4 linked regions of the Homo sapiens genome follow. The protein of the gene in region 1 interacts with the protein of each later gene in a biochemical or structural test. Each region holds a gene or a part of one and is shown on either strand. Other genes may lie near its edges. The genes, in order: TGS1, XPO1, NCOA6 and HNF4A.

Region 1 (7,028 bases):
TCCAGAAAAAACTCCATTTTTTTTTGGAGACAGTGTCTTGCTCTGTTGCCCAGGCTGGAGTGCAACGGCATGATCTTGGCTCATTGCAACTTCCGCCTCCTGGGTTCAAGCAATTCTCATGCTTCAGCCTCCTGAGTAGTTGGGACTACAGGCACACGCTACCATGCCCAGCCAATTTTTGTATTTTTAGGAGAGACAGAGTTTTGCCATGTTAGCCAGGCTGGTCTTGAACTCCTGGCCTCAAGTGATTTGCCTGCCTCAGCCTCCCAAAGTGCTGGGATTACAGGCATGAGCCACCATGCCTGGCCAAAACTGCATGCTTTTAAAGGGTCGGAAAAAGCAAGGAACTGGATGGCAAAAGGCCATAGGGTTGCAGAAGTACAGGAGGAATAGCAGAGCCCTCATCATTGTCAGAAATGAGGTCCTGTGTCCACTCTAGAGTAAAGAGAATACTGACCTCCTTCTTTCCTAGTAGAAAAAATTTACATTTTTCAGAAAGACAATTATCTGAACAAAATGATGTGCTGGGCTGGGCGTGGTGGATCACTTGAGCACAGGAGTTTGAGAGCAGCCTGGGCAACATGGCAAAACCCTGTCTCTACAAAACATTAGCCAAGCATGGTAGTGCTTGCTTGTAATCCCAGCTACTTAGGAGGCGGAGGCATAAGGATTGCTTTAGCCTGGGAGGTGGAGGTTGCTGAGCCAAGATTGTGCCACTGTACTCCAGCGTGGGTGACAGAGTGAGACCCTGTCTAAAAAAAATAAAAAAAAAAAGAAAAGAAAAAATAAAAAGAAAAGAAAAGAAAAATAAATAAATAAAAATAATGTGCGTTAATTTTCCTGTTGTCTCCCCTTACCAAAACTTTAAATGGCTCTTCAATACTGGAAAAATAAGAATATACACTTTTATAGAATTGCAAGTGTTTTCCAGCCTTATTTCTCCTTACAAATTCCTACGTACTTTTTCCAATACACAGCATTTTGCAAATTGTTTTAAAAGGGTCAGAGAACCCCTGAAATTCCATCATAGATCAAGAACTTCTGATTTTGATAGTTAATAAAAACCAATATTTAGGTAACCCCAATATGAAAACGAGCATCAGTCTGCAAGACTGAGTTAAGTAAGCTGTTGCAGATCACAGCAGGAAAGCTGGAGAAAGAATTCAAAATTTGCGAAGTTAATTCATTAAATTGTATCCTTCTGCACTAGATATTTCTTCATCAGGTTTTCTGTTTAATAATTTATCAATTGCTTTTGCTATCTATCCTAACGTGCTACAAATACAGATTAAACCCAAGTCTGAAATTTTAAAAATACACACACACACACACACACCCCCCCAAATTGAAGGGCATCCTATAAAATAAATGGCCATTGATCCTTTGAAAAATGTCAGTCATGAAAGACAAAAAAGGCTAAGGAAACATTCCACATTAAAGGCAACTAAAGAACTTGAAAAATAAACGCAATGATACATGATCCTATACTGGAAGGAAAAAAAAAACGTGATAAAGGACAAGATTAGGACAATTAATGAAATTAGAGTATAAACTGTAGATTAAAATATTGGAACAATGTTAAGTTGATAATTCACTATTTTAAACAAAAATATACTTGTCCTTAGCAAATATACACTAAAGTATTAAGAAGTATGAGCATGATGTGTGTTAAGTACTGATCAGAAAAAGATACACACACATACATATGGAGAGAGAATGAGAACGTAAACGGGGCAAAATGTTGAAAATAGCTGAATCTGGGTAAAGGGGATATGAACATTCCCTGTATTATTCTTATAACTTTCTTTTTAAGTTTGAAGTGGTTTCAAAATAAAGCTAAAAAATACATATATACTTTACCTCTGTCCAACTTAATCCCATCATCAAAACGGGAGAAGAGCCTGTACCTCTGGGCCCAGTATTTTGCCAGCTCAGGAACAGCAGCTATTTCAGGAGGCAGACCATTCACCTTTTTGTTCTTCTTCTTGTTCTTCTTCTTTTTCACTTCAGCTAAAATAAAATACAAAGAATATAGATGCTCACTAAGAAAAAAATTAGTATCACAGGTGAGTTTATCTAAAAATGAAGCCACATCAAATAATTACAAGCAGAACATGTATATAATGACACGCCCAGAGAAACAGGAGAGCCTGATGGAAACGCCACTGGCTTCAATCACCACCAGCATTTTGCTACTTATTGGCTTTGTAAGCTTGGGAAAGTAACCGAGGGTCTTTAAGCTCCATTCATTCATTCATTTATTTATTTATTTAGAGACGAAGTCTGGCTCTGTCACCCATGCTGGAGTGCAGTGGCACGATCTTGGCTCACTGCAAGCTCCGCCTCCCGGGTTCACACCATTCTCCTGCCTCAGCCTCCCGAGTAGCTGGGACTACAGGCGCCCGTCACCACGCCCGGCTAATTTTTTTGTATTTTAGTAGAGACGGGGTTTCACCGTGTTAGTCAGGATGGTCTTGATCTCCCGAGCTTGTGATCCACCCGCCTTGGCCTCCCAAAGTGCTGGGATTACAGGCATGAGCCACTGTGCCTGGCCTAAACTCCAATTATTAATTCCTATAAAAGGAATGAGTGGGCTGAGCGAGGTGGCTCACACCTGTAATCCCAGCACTTTGGGAGGCTGAGGCAGGTCAGAAGTTCAAGACAAGCCTGACCAACATGGTGAAATCCCATCTCTACTAAAAATGCAAAAATCAGCTAGGCGTGGTGGTAGGTGCCTGTAATCCCAGCTACTTGGGAGGCTGAGACAGAAGAATGGCGTGAACCCGGGAGGCGGAGCTTGCAGTGAGCTGAGATTGCACCACTGCACTCCAGCCTGGGCAACAGAGCAAGACTCTGTCTCAAAAAAAAAAAAAAAAAAAAAAAAGAACGATGGGGCTGGGCGCAGTGGTTCATGCCTATAATCCCAGCACTTTGGGAGCCTGAGGCAGGTGGATCACTGAGGTCAGGAGTTCAAGATCAGCCTGACCAACATGGTGAAACCCCATCTCTACTAAAAAAAAATACAAAAATTAGCTGGGCACGGTGGCAGGTGCCTCTAATCCCAGCTACTCGGGAGGCTCAGGCAGAAGAATCGCTTGAACCTGGGAGGCGGAGGTTGCAGTGAGCTGAGAATGCGCCATTGCACTCCAGCCTGGGCAACAGAGCAAGACTCTGTCTAAAAAATAAAGAATGAATGAATGAGTTAGTGAGTGGTGTTTTACTAACTTAATTCACAGCAGTGACAGGACATATGTAGAAATACTGCTATAGACATAAAAGTTATTACTTCTGTTAGCCAAGACACTGCTTTATGTGGTGAATTATAGAAATCTAAACATTTCCTTTCTATCAAGGACTAGATTAGGCTCTAGCTGTCAGCCACATTGAAGTCACATGGCATCTGAGAAACTGAAACAAGGGTCACTAGCTCCATTCCACGGAAAAGGATCTCATTCATTCAGAGAGTGATTTTTTCCTTAAATAATTTTTATCAGTTTGGTTATTTGGTTTCAGTCTTCAGCAAATTAGAAGCAACAACATAGAAAGATGAGACTTTTTTCACAGTTAAGTATAAAAACAAGAGGTGATGGCTAACAAAGAATAAGACTCCATTACACACTCAAATGGTCCTCAAGGATAGGGCTATGTCCTAATATGTTCATCTGATCATTGTAAATAGTAAAAAGTGTCATCATGATTCAGTAAGGTCAGATCTCCCCATCCCCAAACAAGTGTTACCAATAGCAAAGTAAGGTGATTATTTGTCAACAGGGGGTATAATGACATTGTGGGTGGAATAATTCTTTGTTGTGCAAGACCATCCTGTACATGACCTAACATTAAGTAACTGAGTACTAAATGCCAGAATTCCAAATGTCATTCTAACAACCAGCATCTTCCAAATGCCCTTGTGAAGGTGGTACTACCCCAGGTAAAAATAACCAGCATCATGAGAATTGGTGTTTATGGAAGTGGGATAGTGCAGGAAAATGGGACTTAGCAATTGGAGAAGCTGGTAATGAGTCCTAGCTATGCCACTTACTTGGGCTAATTTTTAAATTTCTCTCAGCTTTACTTTCTGTATTTACAGAATGGAAAATAATTCCACCTACTTCCCTGGCTACCTTACAGATTAAATGAGAATAAGACACATAAAAGCATTTCACAAACCTACAAATGTCATATGAACATCGGTTATTATAACATTGATAATAAAATAAATGTAAACTACTGTAGGTATGCTGTTTAGAATGTAAAGAAATATGTGATAAAAAGATCACACATACACATACACCCACACTTGCACTAAGAAAAAAAAAATCAAGACTCAAATAAGTTATTTTCCATAGTAATAAAGAAATATGATGAAGGATCACAATAAATATAATGGTTTCATAATACCATTATTAAACTATATAAGAACTTTTGCTATAAAAATTCGAATACAAAAGTGCATAAATTGAAAATGTTACTCAGTTTATTCATTAGAGCCAACTGCTCTGAATACTTTTTATATTAACGTGCCATCAAAAACACATGACCATCATCAACCACACACACACAAACACACAAAAACACACCAAAAGGAAACCAGCCTGAGCATGGTGGCTCATGTCTGTAATCCCAGCACTTTGGGAGGCAAAGGTGGGAGGACTGCTTGAGCCTTTGGCAACCAGCCTCAGCAATATAGTGAGACCCTGTGTCTCTACAAAAAAAATTAAATAATTAAGCAGGCATGGTGGTATGCACATGTAGTCCCAGCTACTCAAGCTGAGGTGGGAGGACTGCTTGAACCCTGGGGGTCAAGGATGTAGTGAGCTGTGATTGTGCCACTGCACTCCAGCCTGGGCAACAGAATGAGACCCTGTCTCACACAAAAAAAGGAAGAAGTAAACCAAAGCTACACCACATACGAAGAAGGCAAAGGATGGTCACCTTTAGCCCATGGAACTGAGTACCAGCAGAGGCCAAGTTGAACTGCAGACAGTGGTCTGCAGACACAATGCTCCCAACAGTCTTTCCTTTTCTACTTGATCATGTTCACTCAGCCAAGAGTGAGGAGTGCTGTGGGTGCTAAGTCATAGCCAGTTAGAACATGTACACTTAATATGCCTTCTCTCACTTAAAAATAAGTAGCAGTGACTCCTTAGGTACAGAAGATTCACAAGTGAAAACTAAGAAAAAACATATTAACAAAAAAAATTTTATCTAAATCCATTAGCAAGTTGAAGCATATTTAGTGTTACCTTCAGTTTCTGCCTGGCGGGAGTCTGGCACTTCTTGAGTAACACAATCCTGCTCATCTGGAACAGTTGCTAGCAAGCTGTCTCTTTCATAGTTTTCTGTTTCAAGTTCACCAGCTGAAGATACGCTCTGACACTTTTCAGGTTCTGGATTATTAGTCTCCAGTAGGTCATCACCTTTTTTAACAGACATGTCTTGTTCCTCTGAATCACTACTTGTGGAAGCGTCGTGCACATTGTCATGAGAAGATGATTCCTGTGATGCTTCTTCATCCATTGGTTTATTAACCCATGTGAGGAATTTTTCTACCTTAAATTTTAAGATGACATCATGAGCAGGAATTAATTCCAAACTACACAGAATCTTCCTACCTATTACAATTTGTGACTTGACTGAAAAGCTGTGTCAAAATTATTGGCTCTGAAAAGCAGACTGCATCACACAAGCTTAATAGTAAGTAATTCTGACCTAATCAGAATGCTATCTGGGCATGCCATGACCTTATTAAAAGTTTTCTTTAAAAGGAAAAAAATATCAGATTAAATACTTCCTGCTATCAATAAATACTAAGAGGATAAAGCCAAACTGTCCCAGTGGCTTTTCCATAAGGGTTCTTAACAATTTAACTGTGCTACAGCTACATTACAAATGTACCTACTTACTACTGAATCATTAATTTTAGTTTTTCAAATTATATAGACCTTTCTGCAATGGTCAAGCTACAATCTATGTAAATGTTACTTAGCATCAAAGACGAACCCTAAAAAGATTTAGGGCCAATTCTTCTGTAAGAATAGAAGCAGTCTACCTTGGAAAAAAATCAAAGTTGCCTTTTAATGCAACAGTAGAGCCAGTAAGATATGTCCCAGCAAATGTTTGTTCTTTGGAATGTAAACAAGGCTCAGCATCAGATCATATACTTCTTTGCATCTTCTGTAACAAGAATATTCTTCCTATCTTGTCTTCATGACCTTCCTGAGAGTGAGTAAATTAGAATGAAGTGGTAGACATGATGGGCAACAACCCAGAATCTTCCTCTAAAGAAATGTGCCTATAAATAAATTAGGTATCTAAGTTAGACACAACAGTTACATATCTTTTTTCCTCAGCAATGCTTAGTAGCTGTTTCTGCACTCATCTATAGATGAATGCATAGGGGCTATTATATCCAACACATTACGGAAAGTCCTATGGCACTGACTGGACTAATACTAGGCAGTCTGTTTCAGATATAACTAGCACCACGAACATATTTATTAAAACATCACCAGCAGCCAACCAACCTGAAATGTAATACAAAATAAAACCAGCTATATATATGTAGCATATTTTACAAGTATGCTGAAGTTAGGGAGGACACTGTATTGAGGGGAAAAAGAGTCATCTGACTAGCCTTAAAAAACGAACAACAGAGACAGAGACATCATGGAGTCTAAGATTATGGTCTACTGTCCTGAAGAGCTGCTGGAGATGTGATTGACATGAAGGTTCTGCTCATTAGAAAGTGTTTTTTACCCCTTAGAATATAGAAAGGTAATTCATCACACCAAGCAATTTTCTAACTACTTTTGTTTCCCAGGTACTTGGATGGCAGGTATAGCAAAGTCCAATATATGAATATTTCAGGTAATAATGTGAATCAATAAATTGGCCTGTGTTTCATGCTATCAGGGTGAACTTGTTACAAGGTGTAAACTGTGACTGATCACTTCTGGAAGAACTCAGAATTAAAGCTTATAATATAAAGCTGTATCAGAATTTGGACTATTAGGATCCTACTGGTA
Region 2 (7,028 bases), on another chromosome or scaffold:
CTTGAACTCCTGACCTCGTGATCCTCCTACCTCGGCCTCCCAAAGTGCTGGGATTACAGGCACGAGCTACCACGCCCAGCCTGGCCAGGCTGTTCTCAGACTCCTGGCCTCAAGTGATCTGCCCACCCTGGCTCCCCACAAAGTGCTGGGATTACAGGCATGAGCAACCGCGCAAGGCCTCCTAGAATAATTTCTACATATCTATCAGGCAGATACTAATACACAGACAGACCCATTAGACGGATTGGACCTTTCATTAGGATAATTGAAAAGGGTCCTGCGGTGATTAAGATAAAAGACTTTGTGTTTTGTTTTCTACCCAGTAGGGTGAAGAGGGTGGCACATTTCTTCCTTTAATAAAGGAGGAGAAAATGAAAAGTGATTTATCCTTACTCCTGCCTTTATCCATTACATAATTTCTTTGAAGTTTGTTTTATTTGCCTTTGAGAAATGAAGTGCGATTAACATTTCATGTCTTGTTTTAGATACTGAAACAAGAATGGCCCAAACATTGGCCAACTTTTATCAGTGATATTGTTGGAGCAAGTAGGACCAGCGAAAGTCTCTGTCAAAATAATATGGTGATTCTTAAACTCTTGAGTGAAGAAGTATTTGATTTCTCTAGTGGACAGATAACCCAAGTCAAATCTAAGCATTTAAAAGACAGGCAAGTAATAATTATGTTTTAGAATTTTAAAGTGATTTCTCAAACAATTTCAAGCAGTTTGGATGTAAATTGTAGATATTTTAAGGAACTATGATCAGTAATATGTTAAATTGCTTGTAGTGGTTTTCAACTGCAGATTAAGAAATAGTCCTAGACGGGGCCTAATAATTTACCTCTGAAGGTTGAAAAATGAATTGTTCAAGACACACTTCAGGAATTGTTTTGTATGGTAACTAGTTTAATAGGTTCTAAGCAAATGATTTGTGTCCAAACATACGTATTAGTTATTTTATTTTATTTTGAGACAAGTCTTGCTCTATTGCCTGGGGTGGAGTGCAGCAGCGCAATCTTGGCTCACCACAACCCCCACCTCCTGGATTGAGGTGATTTTCTTGCCTCAGTTTCCCAAATAGCTGTGACTGCAGGTGCATGCCACAGAGCCTGGCCTCAAATCAGTTATTGTCTCTGCTTCTTTTCAGTTCCCCAATTGTTAACAATAGTGTTCTTTTTAAAACAAAACAGAAAACTAGATTTGCCTCTAATAGTAAGCAACTGGTATAAACTATAGTTATACTTCCATTAAGTTTTAAACATTTGTTGTAGTCATTAGGAAATCTTTTTCCCCTTGGGTTGCCCAGGCTGGTCTCAAACAATCCTTCTGCCATGGCCTCCCAAAGTTCTGCGATTACAGGCATGAGCCACTGTACTGGGCTTTAATCATTTTTATTAGTATTATAGATAACTGATACTTATTTCTGTGTCTTCTAAATCTGATATTTTTGTGTGTTTTTTTTTTTAGCATGTGCAATGAATTCTCACAGATATTTCAACTGTGTCAGTTTGTAATGGTAAGTGTTTTTAATTTCATTTTTAAAAACAATAATAGGAAAGCAATTATTTACAAGTGTGTTTTGTTATAGGAAAATTCTCAAAATGCTCCACTTGTACATGCAACCTTGGAAACATTGCTCAGATTTCTGAACTGGATTCCCCTGGGATATATTTTTGAGACCAAATTAATCAGCACATTGATTTATAAGGTACAGTGAATACATTTCAGTTATTTGTCACCGGATAGCCACATATATTCTTTTCACATGTAAAGCTCTCATCTCTGCATTCTAAACCTTATTCAACCTTGTTTCTAACACGAGGACGCTGCTCAGGAGAAATTTCCCATATTCACACCTAGTAAATTATTTAAAGTGAGTTTCAAATCTGATTCTGCCACTTAGACCATGTAATTTTATGAATTCATTTTGAACAATGGATTTGATTATATTGCTTTTAGTTTGAGTAAGTTACAGTGAGGTAAGTCAAGTGCTATTTCTGAAAAATGAAAAGTTCATCTTTTAACTGATAATTTAAAATTGATACCATGTTATGGCTTAAGTTCTATAATGGTTTAGCCTGGGCAAGTTGGTGAAACCGGTCTCTACTAAAAATACAAAACAGCCAGGCGTGGTGGTGTATGCCTGTAGTCCCAGCTACTCGGGAGGCTGTGGCAGGAGAATCTCAAACTCAGGAGGCAGAAGGTGCAGTGAGCCAAGATCGTGCCACTGCACTCCAGCCTGGGCAACAGAGCGAGACCCTGTCTCAAAATAAGTAAAGTTCTACAGTGGTTTATCCAGAGATAATCACTGTTACCAGTTGGTTGTATTATATTTTCAGATGTTTTCTTGACTGATATAATGAATAAATTAAGTATCTAATTGGAACATTATAACTTGACCTCTTCAACTTCGTAGTTTAGTTTGGTAAGATAATATGGATTTATAGTATTTGAATGATCAGTTTATTGCTTAATTATGTAAAAACCTTTCTATTGTCAACAGTCCTACAGAGAACATTCTCAGACATAAGATATTATGCAATTGTCCAAACATTAATTTATTTAAATATTTTAATGTTTAATCACCAGATTATTAGGTATGTTTAATTTTAAGGTTTTAATGCCCCCTGATTTCCAACCCCAGACGATAACTGTTTATCTTCTCAACAATAGAATATATAAGCCAATTTTCCCATATTCTTATTACTCTTAGATACATTGACCATTTCCCAAAATTCTAAGCAATCACAAGTTTTAGGTCCTGTGTAATTACACAGAAAGTATAACATTCCTAAAAGTCATATCACAGATTCTAGGAAAGTTGTTAAGGAGCCTTGTTATTTTAGGACACATCAAAAGAAAGCAGTTTAGGCCGGGCGCTGTGGCTCACGCCTGTAATCCCAGCACTTTGGGAGGTCGAGGTGAGCGGATCACGAGGTCAGGAGATCGAGACCAGCCTGGCCCAACGTGGCAAAACCCTGTCTCTACTAAAAATACAAAAATTAGCCGGGCGTGGTGGCATGCATGTGTAGTCCCAGCTATTTGAGAGGCTGAGGCAGGAGAATCGCTTGAATCCAAGAGGTGAGGTTGCAGTGAGCCGAGATCAAGCCCCTGCATTTCAGCCTGGGCGAGCGAGACTCTGTCTCAAAAAAACAAAAAAAGTTTGCTCCTAAAGCATTTACTGTATACTAGGTAGGCAATAAAATTCCCTCTCAGTATATCTGCATGATAAAATATGTTCATTCACTTGGCCTGTTTTTGACATCTACCCCTATATTTAATTGTTAAAGCCTTTTTCCTTTTAATTGTGAATTTTAAGTAAAGTGTGTATCAGGCCAATTAATTTTATGGTTCCCTCCCCCCTTTTAAATAGTTCCTGAATGTTCCAATGTTTCGAAATGTCTCTCTGAAGTGCCTCACTGAGATTGCTGGTGTGAGTGTAAGCCAATATGAAGAACAATTTGTAACACTATTTACTCTGACAATGATGCAACTAAAGCAGGTAATATAATACTATCTTGAAAATTGGCTGAATAATTTTAGTGCCTTAGAAAATACCAAATTCCAAATGAGTTATTTTAGAACGACGTATCAAAGATAAGCCATAATCTTTTGTTTATTACATAAAATTTGTAGTAAGCTACAAATTTTTATGATGTTTCCAAAAATTTCTTAAAATTCAGGTTTGGGGTGTGTTGTGGTAATTTATTTCTGCACACTTTAGGAGCTTGGTCTTTTGGGAGATACCTGACCAGACAGTGGGAAACCTGGGACTTGTTCCTAACATTGTGTCTGAAGGAATTCTTTTCAGCCCTAGTTTGATTGGTTATCTATTAAATGATCTAGAAGGTTATTCATAATACTGTGTTCATGGCCAGGCATGGTGGTTAATACTGTAATCCCAGAACTTTGGGAGGCCAGAATGGGAGGACCAGTTGATGCCAGGAGTTCGAGACCAGCCAGGACAACATAACCAGACCATACCTACGAAAGATTTAAAAAATAGCTAGCTGTGGTGTTGCACACCTGTAGTTCCAGCTACTCTGGAGGCTGAGGCAATAGGATCGCTTGAGCCTATTAATACAAAGTTAAAATGAGCTATGGTCACACTATTGCACTCCAGCCTGGATGACAGGGTAAATCCCTGTCTCTTTTAAAAAACAAGGAAAGATAGATTACTATGTATGTTTGTGATCTGAATGAATGAATTGATTATTTTTACATTTTTCAATGTCAGTGAGAAATACTAGAAAAATTTAAAGGCTGTGATAGCGGCCTTTAATTTATTTGAGAAGAGTCAAAATCTAAGTCCTAGAGATATAAGAATAGGTATACTGGACCTAGGAGTTCTGTATGTGGTTTAATATTAGCAAAAGGGTGTTGGGATATTAGGGCTTAAAAATAATAGTGTTGGCTGAGTGCAATAGCTCAGACCTTTAATCCCAGCACTTTGGGAGGCTAAGGTGGGAGGATTGCTTGAGCCAGGAGTTTGAGACCAGCCTGGACAACATAACAAGATACCGTCTCTACAAAAATGTTAAAAATAAGCTTAGTGCGATGGCACATACCTGTGGTTCCAGCTACTCGGGAGGGGCTGAGGAGGACTGATTGGGCCTAGGAGGTGGAGGCTGCAGTGAGCTTTGGTCATACCACTGCACTCCAGCCTGGACAGAGTGATACCTTGTCTCAAAAAAATAATAATAAAATATTAAGTGTCTTTAGTTGTTTTATAAAATGCGAACTGATCGTCCCTTTTAAAATTTGCAGATGCTTCCTTTAAATACCAATATTCGACTTGCGTACTCAAATGGAAAAGATGATGAACAGAACTTCATTCAAAATCTCAGTTTGTTTCTCTGCACCTTTCTTAAGGAACATGATCAACTTATAGAAAAAAGATTAAATCTCAGGGAAACTCTTATGGAGGTAAGATATGTGGAGCTTTTGCTCCTAAAATTCTGCTCTGCCTACTAATAACTCTTAAAAGTGCCTTTTTCTAAAATGTATGTACCTTTTGAGATTTCTTATTACTTAATATTTGATCAGTACATTATATATATTCTCAATTCTGAATTACAGTTATAAGCCCAGTTTTCTGATTTTATGTTCTCCATAAAGCTAGGACTAAAAATTTATAATCAAAATTAAATTACTAATTATTATATCATTTCTAAGGTTAAAATTTCAAAGACCTTATTTTAAAATTTCAGTTTTAATTCAAATAACATGCATTTGTTCATTTAAAGATATACAATTCATCGTGTAATCCCAGCACTTTGGGAGGCGGAGGTGGGTGGATCACTTGAGGCAGGAGTTCGAGACCAGCCTGGCCTACATCGTGAATCTCTGTCTCTATTAAAAATACAAAAAAATTAGCTGTGCGTGGTGTCACATGACTGTAATCCCAGCTCCTCAGGAGGCTGAAGCACAGGAATTGCTTTAGCCCAGTAGGCTGAGGTTGCAGTGAGCCAAGATCACAGTACTGCACTCCAGCCTGAGTGACAGAGCAAGACTCTGTCTGAAGGAAGAAAATGTCTCTCTCTCTCTCTTTATATATATATATAAACTTAAGTATATATATATATAAACATAAGTATATATATATATACACACACACACACAATTCAGTGGCATATTAGTATATATACAATGTTATACAACCATTAATACCTAGATCCAAAACATTTTCATCACCCGAAGGTGACCCTTTACCCCTAAAACAGTCACTTTCTCCTTTGTTCTCTCCCCAACTTCTGGCAACCATTATTTTGGTTTCTGTCTCTGTAGATATATCTATTCTGATTATACCATATAAAGGGAATCATGCATGTGACCTTTTGTGTCTGGTTTCTTTTATTTGGTGTTGTGTTTTCAATGTTCTTCCATGTTGTAACCTGTATCAATACCTCACTTTTTATCATGTCTGAAGAATATTCTCATTGTATGAATATTCAGTATTTTGTTTGTTCTCTCCTCTGTGATGGTACATTTGGGTTGTGATACCACTTATTGGCACCCAAGGCCTTTTAAATAAATGTCGTTCCATTAGGAGACATGATAAAAATACATATTGATCAACTACTATGTGAGAGATTTTTGAAGTGCTTTAGGGCATGTCAGAAGAAGCAGAGTTACTCCAGAGTTTGCTGTCTATTTGATAAGTATTGAAATCTGAGTTGTGATGAATAAAACATGAATTTTTATTTTCCCTTAAGGTGTAACAAGTGAAAAGCAATTTGAAGTTGGTAATGTTTAAGAATTATTTTAACAGTTTTGGTCTTCTGTGTAGGCCCTTCATTATATGTTGTTGGTATCTGAAGTAGAAGAAACTGAAATCTTTAAAATTTGTCTTGAATACTGGAATCATTTGGCTGCTGAACTCTATAGAGAGAGTCCATTCTCTACATCTGCCTCTCCGTTGCTTTCTGGAAGTCAACATTTTGATGTTCCTCCCAGGAGACAGCTATATTTGCCCATGTTATTCAAGGTAACAGAGCGGTTGGTTGAGTGTTCTTCCTGTTGCATACTGTGGTTTTGAGGTCTGAATCCAAATACTTCTAATCTGTGTAAATAAATTAGCTATAAAAAGAGAACCCAACAACTTCTCCATGAGTGTGGAAAACTAGAACATGAAAGGAGTTGAGTCTAGAACCTTGATTCTCAAGAGTGTGGTCCTTCTCTCAGTATCAACATTGGTTGTGATTTCGTTAGGCAAATTCATTGGCCACCTGCCAATCTACTAAACCAGAGTCTAGGAATGAGACACAGGAAACTCCTGTAACAGAAGTTGGTTAAAAAAATCACATTAAAACACACTTAAATAATTATAAAGCCATTTTTGTAGAATTACAGTGAAAAAAAATTTTTTCTTTTGGAGACAGGGTCTTGCTCTGTGGCTCAGGTTGGAGTGCAGTGGCGTGGTCATAGCTCACTACAATCTTGAACTCCTAGACTAAAGCAATTCTCTTGTGTCAGCCTCCCAAGTAATTGGTTGCAGGCACACACCACCATGCCTAGCAAATTTTAAAT
Region 3 (7,028 bases), on another chromosome or scaffold:
TGAAGAGGCAGAGAGAAGGGGAATTAACCTTTCCAGAGCTCTGCGTGAGGCAGTGTGTTGGCCACTTGACAAATCTTCTCATTGAGTCCTCTCTCAGAATCCTAAATTCTGGGAGGTAGAATGTACGATCTCCATTTTACAAGTGAAATACATGGCTTAGGAGAGGTTAAGGAACGTATCAACTGTAACTGGTAACCAGTGGGCTAGAATTTGAACTCTGATCTTACCCTGAAGTTTGTGTTCTTTCTGCCTCTCCTCCTGGGTGCTTACCACTCAGTGGTAGGCACTCGAAGCATTTTAGCTGCATAAATAAGATAGGCACTTAATTAGCTGGCCTAGGATATCGTAAAGGTCTTTCCCAGCTCTAGCAGTGTGTGACTGACTCCACTCTGGGGAAATAGAGCTTCTTCACTTAAGCCTCACAGGAGGAGGAACATGTCAGGGAAGGGAAGAAGGGAAGGAGGGGCGGTTGTAAGGACACCTATGCTTCCATCATTAGCCCATCTTAACAGTACATAGGAAATAGCCTGAACTAGATACACAAATGGAATGTACCAATCAACAAAGAGATTACATCAAAAAGAAACTGGGAATAACAATTTTTACCATTTATTGAATAATAATTATATGCTAGGTTCTGTGCTAAGAATGTTATATGTACTACCTTATTGAATTCTTACAACTATTATTGTTCCATATTACAAAGGAGGAAACCAAAGTCTGGAGTGGTCAAGTAACTTGCCCAAGCCCATATAGCTGGTAAATGCTGGTGTTATAATACCAACCCAAGCCTACTGGCTCTTGACCACTTTGTTTCTACTGTGTCCATTATCATGAAACCCAGTTTTCTTCCAGCTCTCCTCTAGAGTAGCCCAGACAAAAAAAGAATGGTTCCTGAGATAGAGTACAGTGAGAATGGGGCTATGAGGACCCATTGTTCTGAAATAGTCATGAGCAAATCTTCACCCTGGTAAAGAGAATCTGCAGAAGCTGCTGTTCACACTTAAGGCACAGTGTTAAATGGGAGGTTCACAGTATAGACTCTGAACAAACACTGAACGTCTTTGAGCTTCAATCTTCTCACCCATACAATGGGGTTAAGAATATCTGACATAGTTGGTATAAAGATGATGCAAGACAACATATGTAAAAATGCTTCCTTATAAATTGAAAAACTTATATAAATGAAAGGTATCATTATTTCAGGAACTCTTTGTTTTGAGAGCCTTAGCTCTCTGTTTTGTTTTTTTCAGACAGAGTCTCGCTCTGTTGCCCAGGCTGGAGTGCAGTGGCATGATCTCAGCTCACTGCAACCTCTGCTCCCAGGTTCAAGCTATTCTCATGCCTCAGCCTCCTGAGTAGCTGGGATTACAGGTGTGTGCCATCATGCCTGGCTAATTTTTGAATTTTTAGTACAGATGCAGTTTCACCATGTTGGCCAGGCTGGTCTCGAATTCCTGACCTCAACTGATCCACTCACCTCGGCCTCCCAAAGTGCTGGGATTACAGGCGTGAGCCACCGCACCTGGCCCTTAGCTCTCTTTAATGAATGCAAACTTAACATGGGATTTAAAAGCATATTTTCCAACGTACTTTCAATAAATAAAACTACTGCTATTGCCATTTAGCCCATTCTCTTTCCTCCAAGTAAAAAAGGAGTCATGCTTTCTCTTGTGGGATTAGGTCATCAAAAAACTGACACAAAGAGATGATGAAGCCCCAAGTACATACCTATGCTGGGTAGAAGTTCTGGATGGGATCCCACCTTCTCCTCCACTAGGCCACCCGCAAGTGACTCAGATGCTATGCCACCATGATTGCTTTTTGTGGTCGGTACGGCGGAGATGAGCTCGGAGGGTACCAGAGTGGTTACTATCGAGCGTACACTGGTGGGGAGAGCACCGCCAGGTAAGCTGGGTCCTGCTGAGGCAGTGCCCGGGCCCACAGGGCTAGAGGTCATTTTTAGCAGAGTGGGTGCTGGGGGCGTTGGGGTTTTACTGTCCAGCTCTGTGGATAACTGCTCTGTTCCCATGAGCCCCGGAGCTGTGGTGTCTAGCCCTTGGCCTTCAGTCTCTCCATCTGCACCATATTGTTCTTCCCCTTTCTCAAGAGAGCCTGTAACTTTCTTACATGCCTTGGTCAACAAAATTTGGCCAATTTTGTCCACTTTTCCTTTGCCCTTACTAGACGAGACTGGGCTTCGCCGGTTGCCAGAGGACCCTGGACTATTGGTCAAAAGGGGAGAAACCATTGTGGTTGACTGTGAAGAGGGAAGAGTGTTCTGATCTGCTGAGGTGTTCACCTGAGGGCTAGCCTCATCTGGATTCAATTCTTTCACTTGCTGCACAGGGGGATGAGAAGGGACAACTGGAGAAGACGTACAAGGAGGGGAAGGAAGCTGAACAGGGGTGGCTCGTGAGCTAAGGACCAAAGGTCGACCTGTCTGGATGTTTGGAGCAGGACTACTGGAGAGGGCATTAGGCGGTACAGGAGCAGAAGAAAATTTTATGTTCTGAGGTATGTGTAAAGGGCCAACAACTGCAACAGAGGGAGGCATCAGGCCAGAGTTGGTTGTCAGTGGGGCTGCAGGAATTGTGCTTGGCTGTGATCCTTTCATAACCTGAATTATTGAGGATGAATTGATAAAGACAGGTGTAATGAACTGAGGCCGGGCATTAGACTGAGCAGCTGACTGTCCCTCAGAAACCATAACCTTGCTACCCGCATTGGGCATTGTGACAACTGTTGACATCAATGCAGACTGCAAGTGAGTTGGCAAAGCTGCTGATGTGTTAGCTGAAGTTGTGATGGGATTGGAAGTGACAAATACAGTTATTTGATTTGGGGGCAAGGGAGTGGAAATGGAGGAAGAGCTAACAGGTCTTGACATTACTGGAGGGATGCTTGGTGCAACGTTAGAACTGACCTCACTCAATTCGGGATGCACAAGGGATGAACACAGCTCATTACTGTGAGGTAAGTTTAGGGAATTAGAAGGTTCTTTAGAAGAAGACAGATCCTGCAGTGTGGGAATGACAGATGCTTTTTTGAGGTCCTCCCCAGAAACTACTGGAGGTGTTACTTCCAGATCTGTAAGCCCAGGGGGTTTAATTGTCACATTGGGAGCTCCAGAGTTGTCAAGAAGTTGACTTAACGATGTTGGTGCTTCCCTCATAGCAGGAGACACCAAATTTTTGTTCTCTTCGACACTGGGAAGTTTGTTAGGATCCGAAGGCTGCCCATCCTTTTTGGACTGATCTTCAGGGACAACCATTTTAACTTCTTGGGCAGGGACTGCTTTTAGTTCAATGTTTACCTGTTCCTTCCTACTCTGGGAATTCTGGCAATCACTGTCCTGAGGCACATTCAAGCTCTCCTTGTTATCCTCAACAACACCCCCAACTGCAGCCACAGACACAGTAGAATTCTGAGGATTCAGCCCACTGTTGTTAGGAAAGCTCCCAGGTACAGGGGGATTGGCCAGAGGAGTGGGACTGACCAATACATTTCTCGGCAACTCCACATTCTGCAATAGGGCTGCATTTGTCTGAGAGGCCAGAGTAAGTTTAGGGGCTTTTGAATTTTGCCTCCCAGGGCTTGGAGTGGTTTTCCTACTGGACCCAGGACTAGACCTGCGACTGTTGCTTGGACTTGCCCGTTTTGTTGCTCCAGAATTAGACTGCTTTCCAGAATTCACTACCACAGAATCTAATTTGTGAGTTTGTGGGGTAGCAAAATTGGAAGGATTCATGGTAAGATTTGAAGGTGCTTGCCCGATGGCCTTCAAAGTTGTTGGATTTAGGCCTTGTTGATCAAAGCCCCTGTTTAAATTTGGCCTAGGAGGTAAAGGAATATTAATCTGTGGAGGGAAGAGTCCTGCTATGGAGGCATTGAGTCTTTCTGGTGACAGACTGATTTCTGAAGGTTCTGTGCTGGGAGGGCGGTTGTTGGGTGTCTGAGGATAATAGGGTCTGGGGCTGGCTCTGTTTGGTGTTTTGGGCCTAGATGTCTGGGTTGGCGCAGCCACATTTGGGAAGTGGTGGCCGTGAGAGCTGGGCAGGGAATTTACAGGGGGTTGCTGGGGAGTTGCACCTTGAGTTGCTGAAAGGGGCGATGGTCCAGGTTTTGGCCCTGTCATCATTAACTGATTCTGGGGAAGTACTACATGTGAAGGCATGTTGTTTGGGCCTCCTGGGACAGATGGTGCTTCACTGCCACTTGCTTCAGGGAGTGAGGCCATCTCCGCCAGTGGCGAGCTGGAAGGATTCTGCGGGCTCTCCTGATAGACCATTTTCCTTGAATTGCTTCCCAAGGGAGTATTCACAGGCATTGGCATTCTTTGTTTATCAGGTGATGGTGGCACGGAGGCAGGTCCTTGCAGACTGACCATGACAGGCACACTGCCACTCTGTTGCATGGGCATTCTCTGGGAGTCGGGGTTCAGGGGGCCCCTTGGAGGATGGACATTTTGAGAGACTGGAAGCCTAACTGATTTGGGATCCTGCTGCATCATGAGCATCATCATCATTTGTTGCTGCTGCTGCTGCTGCTGCTGAGACTGTGGCTGACTGGGAGGTGGTGGCTGCTGCTGCTGAGGCAGTTGTGGCTGTGGCTGCTGCTGTGGTGGCTGTGGTGGGGGTGCCACATGCTGCATGAGTTGAGGAGGCATCTGCTGAAGTGGCCTCTGTTCAACTGGTTGAGAAGGATAACCTAAAACAAGCCCCCCAAATTAGGGAAGTTAGATTTTTCAGCAAGAAAATGTTGCTACCTTTAGAGTATAGCCAAGCAATACTCATCTAGGTGGCACAGACTATGCACAAACAGCTCAGGCATGCCCACTCCTGGGGCAGGGGGCAGCCCCTCATTACTTGACATAAGCAAAAGGGGCACAGTGCTTAAGGAAGCAAAAAGCAAAGCATCAAAAAACCTGGAGCTCCTCGGTGTGTAGGATCTGAATGAGCCATGACTGTACTAAGAGCCTGATTTTCTGTGCTATGCACTGAAAATGGCTGTGTCTATACCAGCCAAACATTCAGATGAAATGAGAAAAACTCCATCAACATCAAGTGCCTGGCCACCCAAGATTCAGGTCTCATGTAGTCATAATCAATATTTCAATGTACTTGTGAATGAAGTAAAGCATTTAGGATTCACTTCTTCTGTTAGCACAGGAATAATTTTTTTAAGATGTGGTTTTGTTGAAAATAACAGCACTGAAGACAGCCTTTTTATTCTTTCAACAGAAGTAAAATATAAAATTCTAGGATTCAGTTCCTTAAGAAAGAGGAATTTAAAATTATTCCAATTCATTGGCTCCATACACTACGCCGCATCCTTCAGGCTTAATCCTTTGGGGGAAACCGACTGAATTAAAATTGCCCTTCAGGTGTAAATCAGTTTAATAAACAGTAGGAGCTAATGGAAGCTGATATACACATTGAAAATAAAATTAGGGCATTGAAGTTTTTATGGATATTAATTTGCACTTACTTTCTTACATGCAAATCTCTATTTGGAGAAATATTTTCCATGAATCCACAGCTGGAGAATAAGTAAGGCAGAAGCATAGCCCTCAGGAATAAAAAATAATTTTGGGAAAAGAACTCTGAAGGACAATGTCTTCTAGATATGCAGAGGGCAACATCTCAAATTATTCTCTTTTTTTGTGAAGATTTTACTTGGCATTTTAGAACCAAAACCTTACAATCAGAAAAGATAAAAAGATACGCAAACCAAGAATAACGGTGGTTCTGTGGGAAAAAGTGGGCATACAGCTGGGCATATATGGGATACAATTCCAGTTCCACAAACTAGATTTATTCCATTGTTGCATGAAGAGTACATTAGGGAGGTTTTAAGAAGGTGTAGGAATAAGAACAACTGGCTCTGGCAGTCAAAAGAAATGCTGACTCAACATTTTCATAGAGCAGCTACCAAATTTTGTGGGTCAGACTCAGCACTCAATTAATGTCTTCTGGCCAAAGATTTCCATGGTATCAATGAATACAATGTGTAGAATCCAGTTTTGAAGATTTTTAAAAAAATCCTTTTTTATTTTAGGCCCGAGTAACTTCTTCACCTTTATAAAGCCAATAACATGGCATTTCTATGGTTCAACTGTCCTTTCGACTACATAGTCAAATACAGTGGGTTCCTATTTTTCACATTCAGTCTGGGGTTCCCACATTAAGAAATTTGTAATTGCTACAAAAGCCTGTTGATGTCAGGGTTATGACATGGATGCCTTTTATCTTTAAAATCAGCCCACCAGACAGTAAATACCAAAGAGGACAGCATAGACAATATAGCAGCCTCTCAAAAGTAACAGTTAAGGGCATGGCTGCTACAGAGTCCAGAAGCTGGAGGCAGCAGTCCAAAAGGCACTAATGATAAGACAGATTGGGGCTGACGTGACAGAATGGTGAAGAGGGAAAGCCAGGACACACATAGTGCCCATAACACAATCACAAACTGAATTTATTACTCAGGGAATGCAAACTCCTATGCCTTTAGGGGCCAGGCAGGTAGTAGAGAATAGAAGTGGACTGGTATAAGACAGCAGGAGTCCTGTCAACAGTGCCAAACTGCAGAGCAGATGCCCTATTTAAAGGCATTTAAACTCGGACTTTTGTTTAAGACACTGCATAGCAACTCAAAACCATTATAGGCCAAATTCAGCCTGCAGGCCCCCAGTTTGCAGAAAGAAGGCAATAAATGTATACAAAGACCCCTGGGATTCTTATAAGAAGAGTTCAGATGTGTCTGAGGCAAGCAGGCATGTTCCTGCTCTCAATGCCTTCTGGACATACTCCCCAAAGACTGATGACCTCCCAGTCTCAGCTATGCTGCTGCATCTCACTGACGGGAAGTGTGATATGCCCAAATAATTTGTAATAAATAACACAAAGTATTGATATCATGATGGATTTAGCTTTTTGTTTGGATTCAATTTTAAAATACATAAATTAGGGGTAGATTAAAGGTTACTCCTAAAATAATGTCGCTCTCATTTTCATGCCAAAAAGAAG
Region 4 (7,028 bases), on another chromosome or scaffold:
TTGCCTCATCCCAACAATGGCTTCATTCAGTAAAGGCTGTCAGTCACCTTACTGAATAAACAGCCTCAACAAATGGACAATCTTGCCCTTTATTCCCTACCCTGGAACCCAGAAAACTGTTGCATCCTGGTTCTACCTTCTAGACTCCACTTTCTCCTGCCTCCTGTCTTAAGCCCCATCCTCACCCTTTGCAAGGTAAAATCCCAGAGTTTGCCCACCTGCCTGTCCCCTGGGTCGGGGCCACTCACACATCTGTCCGTTGCTGAGGTGAGTGGGCATTGTGTTGGCAACGATGACGTTGGTTCCCATATGTTCCTGCATCAGGTGAGGGTGCAGGGGGTGGTGGGCATGGGGTGCATCGCTGGGGGACCCTGCAGGTAGAGAAGGTCGATCAGGATGGAGAGTCTGGGATGCAGACCTCAGGCCTTGGGACGCCATCTTCCTCAGGCGTGGCCAATCAACCAGCCCATCCAATATTGGCAGTGCCTGTTGGGTACCTATTCCTGGGTTAGTAAACTAGGGTGTACCATTCCCATCTATAGACTTCATGAGGGTGTTAAGAGGACCCCAAAAAACCAAGAGAACAAAAGTGAGTTGAAAGGAACAAGGTGCATATAAGGAAGCTCTGAGATCACGTAAATGTTCTAATGAGTAGTGTATTGGTCACATAGTAACATAATGGATGTAATCAATGGCTCTCAAAGCTCCTTGGAGTGCAAGTCCTTCAACCATTTGGTCCCGCCTCACCTTTCAGCCTCATCCCCCACATCTCTGCTGCAGCCAACTGACCTACTTATAGCATCTATGTGTCCCCTGTGTTTTTCTATCTCTATGCTTCTGCTCACGTTGTTGCTTCTGTCAGAGATGTTTTTCCACCCCAAACCTGTTCCATGTCCATAAGCCCAAATCCCAGCTCATATATTTCCTCTCTTTAGAAGCCTCTCCTGATTCTCCTTCCTTGGATTTCTCATAGTAATTTGTCTGTAACACAACTTTTAGGAACAACCACTTCTTCTGTCTATGAGCATTACAATTTCAGAGGTATTTTTCTTCTTTCTTTGAGGGCCTAGCAGATTGTCTGGAACACAGTAACCGCTTCAAACATATGTCAGGGAGTAAAAATACCACATGGGATATGGTTTAATAATAGCCTATGGTGAGTAATATGACGATGATGGAATTTCAACGCTTGCAAGCGATCTCTACAGTACATCTATTTCAGTGATAAATAACAATTGTTGATAATTAACAATTATCACGTGCCAGGTACTGTTGTATAGCACTTCCCATGTTTCACATAATTTAATCCTCACAGCAATCCTATAGGATGGATACTATTATTAGCCCATTCTACAGATGAGACAACTGAGCCCAGAGAGCTCTTAATTATTTGGCAACAGACCACAGGCTCCTGATCCTGATCTCAATGACACCTGATTCATAATAACCCCATGTTCACAGGGTCAAAGTGAGAATGAAATGAGCTATCACATAACAGCGATTCCCAACTGGGGATGATTTTGGCCCATCAGGAGACATTTGACAATATCCAAAGACATTTTTGGTTGTCACCACTGGAGAAGTGCTACTGGCACCTTATGGGTACAGGACAGAGATGCAGCTGAACAATGTACAGGACAGCCCCACACAACAAAGAATTGTCCAGTTCCAAGTATCAATAGTACCAATGTTGAGAAACCTCACCCTCGCCTTGTCATCTTCAGTCACTGAAACACCTCCAAAATCTCGAATTCAACATCCCCACTTTGACTTCACCTCATGTCCTTCCAGCTCCCGTAATCTAATACCATCGCTGCAAAAATTCTTCAGCCCTACTGAGACTGTCAATTCACTGACACTCTCTTTTCACTATCACCCCATCCTTTTGTTGTTGTTGTTGAGACAGAGCCTTGTTCTGTCGCCCACGCTGGAGTGCAATGTCATGATCTCAGCTCACTTCAACCTCCATCTCCCGGGTTCAAGTGATTGTCCTGCCTCAGCCTCCCGAGTAGCTGGGATTACAGGTGCATGCCACCATGTCTGGCTAATTTTTTTTTGTATTTTTAGTAGAGATGGTGTTTTGCTGTGTTGCCAGGTTGGTCTTGAACTCCTAGCCTCAAGTGATCCACCCGCCTCGGCCTCCCAAAGTGCTAGGATTACAGGTGTGAGCCACCGTGCCCGGCCTCTATCTTTATTTCTTTTTGAGTGCAGCCCAGACTCCATGACCTATCATTCTAATCACTCCCTTGCAGTCATCCTAACTCCTTCATACTCCCCTTCATAGTCAAACCATTTCAAAGGGTTATCTACTCTATCTCCACCTTCCCACTCACTCTCTTTGGAGCACTCTCCAATCTGGTTTCCACTCTCCCAGCTCTCTGATGCTGCTTTCAACACAATTGCCAAGAGCCTCCAGCTGTCAATCCAATGGACCCTTTCCTCTCTCTTCCCCTCCTCTCTTCACCTCTCCTTTCTTCCCCGCTTCTTTCTGTTTCTCTGTAGAGTTTAACACCATTAAACACTCTGTCCTTCAAACACGCTCTTCTCTTGGATTCTGGAATTGCCCTGGTTTTCTCCTACCCCTCTGGCCAGTCTTCTTCCCTTCCCTCCATGGCTCCATCTTCCCCCTGATTCCACAGAGCTGCCTTTAATCTTGTGCTTGAGCAACAGACTCATACATTCAACAGCCTCCTTGATAACTTGGATTTGTAATAGTCATCTCATGCTTAATGAAAGTCCACAATGAGGCTGGGCATGGTGGCTCACACCTGTAATCCCAGCACTTTGAGAGGCCAAGTCGGAAGGATTGCTTAAGGCTAGGAGTTCAAGACCAGCCTGGGCAACATAGTGAGACCTTGTCTCTATAAAAAATAAGAATGAAGAATTAGCTGGGTGTGGTGGCACGCACCTGTAGTCCCAGCTACTTGAAAGGCTGGGGTAGGAGGATCTCTTGAGCCTGGAAGGTTGAGGCTACAGTGAACTATGATTGCGCCACTGCACTCCAGCCTGGGTGGCAGAGAGAGATCTCGTCTCAAAAAAAAAAAAAAAAGGAAAAAAGAAAAGAGGGTCCACAATGGATCTCTGAGGTCACCCCTCACTACCACCCCCAGACCCAGTGTCTTGTTGTTTATTCTGTCCTCCTCATTTCAGTAAATTACTCCATCGTCATTTCTGCTACTCAAAGCAAAAATGTAGACTTTGTCCTTGACTCTTCCTCTTTCTCTCACTCCCTATGTCTGATCAATCAGCAAATCCTGTGGGTGTGGGCTCTTCCTCCAAATAGATGATCAGGTTTATCTTCACTGCTCCATTGCCAGGGTCCAAGCCTCCATCATCCATCACATGATTGGAGACAGTGACATTCTCAGGAATCTGCAATTCACTCTCTACCCAACAGAGTGGTTTGTTTGAAGCATTAGTCTGGGATGGGTGTGGCGGCTCACACCTGTCATTCCAGCACTTTGGGAGACTGAGGTGGGTGATCACTTGAGGTCAGGAGTTTGAGACCATCTTGGCCAATAGGGTGAAACCCTGTCTTTACTAAAAATATAAAAAAATGAGCAGGGCGTGGTGGCGGGCGCCTGTAATCCCAACTACTCAGGAGGCTGTGGCAGGAGAATTGCTTGAACTCGGGAGGTGGAGGTTGCAGTCAGCCAAGATTGTGCCACTGCACTCCAGCCTGGATGATTGAGGGAGACTTTGTCTCAAAGAATAAAAATACTTAGTCTGGTTTTCACTCTCCTTACAATAGTTGCAATGAGAATAAAATCCAAATTTCTGAAAAGGCTGACAAAGCCATATGTTTATGATTTGGTTTCTGCCCAATCTCCATCTTCACCTCCTACACGTCCTCCATCTCACAACCTTGCCCTTCTTTCTCAAACACAACACTCTCTCCTATCCGCAGCCCTTGAAGTAGTTTCTTCTTCTTGGAATATTCCTCTCTTGTCTTTTAAGCCTTCCATTTCCTTTCAGCCGTTAGGGTCTTAGCACAAGAGTCACCACTTCAGAGAGGTCTCCTGTGGCCTCCCCTATCTAAAGAGGATTCCTTTTCAGTTAAACTCTATCATATTACCTGTTTATTTCAAAATCATAAAATGTGAGGCTTTATATACACATGCACGCACATACGGGCATATACACAGATATCCACGCATCCATACATACTCACACACACACAGCCTCCCCGAGGGCAAAGATCTTGTTCTTTGCTGAATTGCCAGCACTTAGAACAGTGACTGGCACGTGCTAGGTTCTCGGTGCCTGAACAAATAGACCATTGCCTTGTTCCCATTTTTCTGGTGAGGAAACTGAGGCACAGACAGGTTAAGCAACTTGCCCAAAGCGGCACAGTGGGGAAGCCAAGGAGCTGAGGGGTGAGCTCACTGTGTGAGGCCTGTCTCCTGGGGAGTCCCCACTCCAACCCCGCCCCTCCTGGGCTTGGCACGGACCTCCCAGCAGCATCTCCTGCAACAGGTTGTCAATCTTGGCCATGCCGAAGAGCTTGATGAACTGGATCTGCTCGATCATCTGCCAGGTGATGCTCTGCAAGGTGGGCAGCAGCAGCAGCAGCTCTCCAAAGCGGCCACGCGAGTCATACTGGCGGTCGTTGATGTAGTCCTCCAAGCTCACCTGCACCTGGGAACGCAGCCGCTTGATCTTCCCTGGATCGCTCAGCCCCTTGGCATCTACAATGGAAGAGGGTGGGCAAGGGAGGGCAGCAGGGTCCAGCTGGAGCATCTGGGGAGTCAAGACCCAGATGTCCCCTGACTTGTATCACACAAGGAGTCTTCAGCAGTGTGGGCACAAGGATTCAGGGACCTCAACAACCAGGGTACGCCAGCATGAATTATGATTTCCTAGACACAGGCAGAAAAAGATTTCTGCCACATTTCCTAAAGCACTAAACCAGAAGAGAGGGGAATAGGAGATGGAGGGCGGGACTTGAGGAATGCATCCAATAAGCACCTAGCAACCGCCTCATCTTACACACGGGGAAACCCAGACACAGTGCAAAGATAGGACTTGTCCTGGGTCGCACAGCCAGTTGTTGGCAGAGCCACAATGGGAACTTGGGGTTTTGGGCCACAGTTGAGGTCCCCTCATCCAGACCTCAGCAGTTGCTGCTTCTACTGTGTTAGAATAGGCTCCCCTTCCCTGGTTCCTGCTTCCTATCACCTTAGGGACTCAGGTTAGGTTTCACCTCCTCCAGGAAGTCTGCCTTCTACCCTCCTATATCTGTATCCTGTGTCCCTCCTGTTTCCAAATCTCTGCGGCCCCTCCATCACTGCTGACCACACAGGATGTAATTGTTGTGCCATCCAACTGTGAGTTTGGCAGGGGCACGCGTATGTCTTATTTGCCATTTTTATTTTATTTTATTTTATTTTGAGACTGAGTCTCCCTCTGACCCCCAGCCTGGAGTGCAGTGGCGTGATCTCGGCTCACCGCAACCTCTGCCTCCTGGGTTCAAGCGATTCTCCTGCCTCAGCCTCCCGAGTAGCTGGGATTACAGGCACACACCACCACACCCAGCTAATTTTTGTATTTTAGTAGAGACGGGGTTTCACCATGCTGGTCAGGCTCATCTCAAACTTCTGACCTCAAGTAATCTGCCTGCCTCAGCCTCCCAAAATGTTGGGATTACAGGCGTGAGCCACTGCACCCGGCCTTTGCCTTTTCAAACTCACCACCTAGCACCATGCATAGTCAATATTTATTGAATAGGGCCAGGCATGGTGGCTCATGCCTGTAAGCCCAGCACTGTCAGAGGCCGAGGCGGGGGGATCACTTGAGGTCAGGAGTTTGAGACCAGCCTGGTCAATATGGTGAAACCCCATCTCTACTGATAATACAAAAATTCACCTGGCGTGGTGACACATGCCTGTAATCCCAGCGACTCAGGAGGTGAGGTGGGAGAATCGCTTGAAACTGGGAGGTGGAGGTCGCAGTGAGCCAAGACGGTGCCACTGCACTCCAGCCTGGGTGACAGACTATATATATATATATTTTAAAAAATATATATTTATATATAAATATATATTTATTGATAACTATATGTATATTTTTTGTTAGATGGCTGGATGAATGAATGAAAAAAAAATCAGTGAATAAATTCTAGATCCTTAGCCTAGAAAGGAACTTAAGCGGTCATACAATATTTAATCTCAACCTTCATGGAGGTAATGCATTTATTTCCTCTTTCATGGACAAAGGAAGTGGCAGAAAGAACATTCACCCACATTTCTAGTGGGCTGTCTCCACTGAATCATGCTTATTCATTAGTTCATTCAGGCCACACATGTTTATTGAGCACCTCCTGCATGCCAGGCCTTGAACTAGGTCCCCCGCCCCTTCAAATTGCTGGAGGCTGCTGCCTCTGACTCAGCATCAGTGATCCTTCCCATTTTGCAGAACAATTCTGCCAGTCCAGCCTCGTGTTGAGCACTACAGAGGATACAGGCTGGGCCAGGCTGTGGAGGGAACTAGAACTAGAAATCTCACCCTCTGGTAAGTGTGGGATAGCAGGTGGTAGGTAAGAATGTGGGCTTGAGAGAGAGAAATTGGGATTGACAGGTGGTCTGAAGTTCAAATCCAAGCTCTGCCATTTTCCGGTTGTGTGACCTTGAGCAAGTTAATCATGCCTCAGTTTCCTTATCTGTAAAATGGAGATAATAATAATTCCTACTTCACAGGTACCATGTTGGTAAGTAAGACAATCCACATAAAGTGTTTAAAAACAGCTCTTTAGGGAGCATTCAATACATGGGGCTCATCTTCCACTTCATCACTCTCTCTATATATAATATATATCACTATATATATATAAAATATATATCACTATATATAATATATATTATACGTAATATATCACTATATACTATATATATCACTATATATTATATATATATAATATATATTATATATATATACACATATATGTATTTTTTTGAGATGAAGTTTTGCTCTTGTTGCCCAGGCTGGAGTGCAATGGCATGATCTTGGCTCACTGCAACCCCCGCCTCCCA

The links.
Region 2: the proteins of TGS1 (region 1) and XPO1 form a complex in vitro, tested with the Homo sapiens proteins (one study listed by IntAct).
Region 3: the proteins of TGS1 (region 1) and NCOA6 form a complex in vitro, tested with the Homo sapiens proteins (2 studies listed by BioGRID).
Region 4: the proteins of TGS1 (region 1) and HNF4A form a complex in vitro, tested with the Homo sapiens proteins (one study listed by BioGRID).

Annotation. Positions count from the first base shown.
Region 1 is NC_000008.11:55,797,439-55,804,466, reverse strand, and holds part of TGS1 (trimethylguanosine synthase), read right to left. Parts: intron 5,554-7,028; coding exon 5,247-5,553; intron 2,011-5,246; coding exon 1,861-2,010; intron 1-1,860. UniProt on the Homo sapiens protein: Catalyzes the 2 serial methylation steps for the conversion of the 7-monomethylguanosine (m(7)G) caps of snRNAs and snoRNAs to a 2,2,7-trimethylguanosine (m(2,2,7)G) cap structure.
Region 2 is NC_000002.12:61,493,352-61,500,379, reverse strand, and holds part of XPO1 (exportin-1), read left to right. Parts: intron 1-485; coding exon 486-667; intron 668-1,466; coding exon 1,467-1,515; intron 1,516-1,587; coding exon 1,588-1,707; intron 1,708-3,372; coding exon 3,373-3,501; intron 3,502-4,766; coding exon 4,767-4,925; intron 4,926-6,288; coding exon 6,289-6,486; intron 6,487-7,028. UniProt on the Homo sapiens protein: Mediates the nuclear export of cellular proteins (cargos) bearing a leucine-rich nuclear export signal (NES) and of RNAs.
Region 3 is NC_000020.11:34,738,632-34,745,659, forward strand, and holds part of NCOA6 (nuclear receptor coactivator 6), read right to left. Parts: intron 4,711-7,028; coding exon 1,732-4,710; intron 302-1,731; coding exon of another isoform or gene 228-301; intron 1-227. UniProt on the Homo sapiens protein: Nuclear receptor coactivator that directly binds nuclear receptors and stimulates the transcriptional activities in a hormone-dependent fashion. Coactivates expression in an agonist- and AF2-dependent manner.
Region 4 is NC_000020.11:44,421,678-44,428,705, reverse strand, and holds part of HNF4A (hepatocyte nuclear factor 4-alpha), read right to left. Parts: intron 4,689-7,028; coding exon 4,452-4,688; coding exon of another isoform or gene 4,327-4,451; exon of another isoform or gene 4,063-4,326; intron 372-4,062; coding exon 219-371; intron 1-218. UniProt on the Homo sapiens protein: Transcriptional regulator which controls the expression of hepatic genes during the transition of endodermal cells to hepatic progenitor cells, facilitating the recruitment of RNA pol II to the promoters of target genes. Activates the transcription of CYP2C38.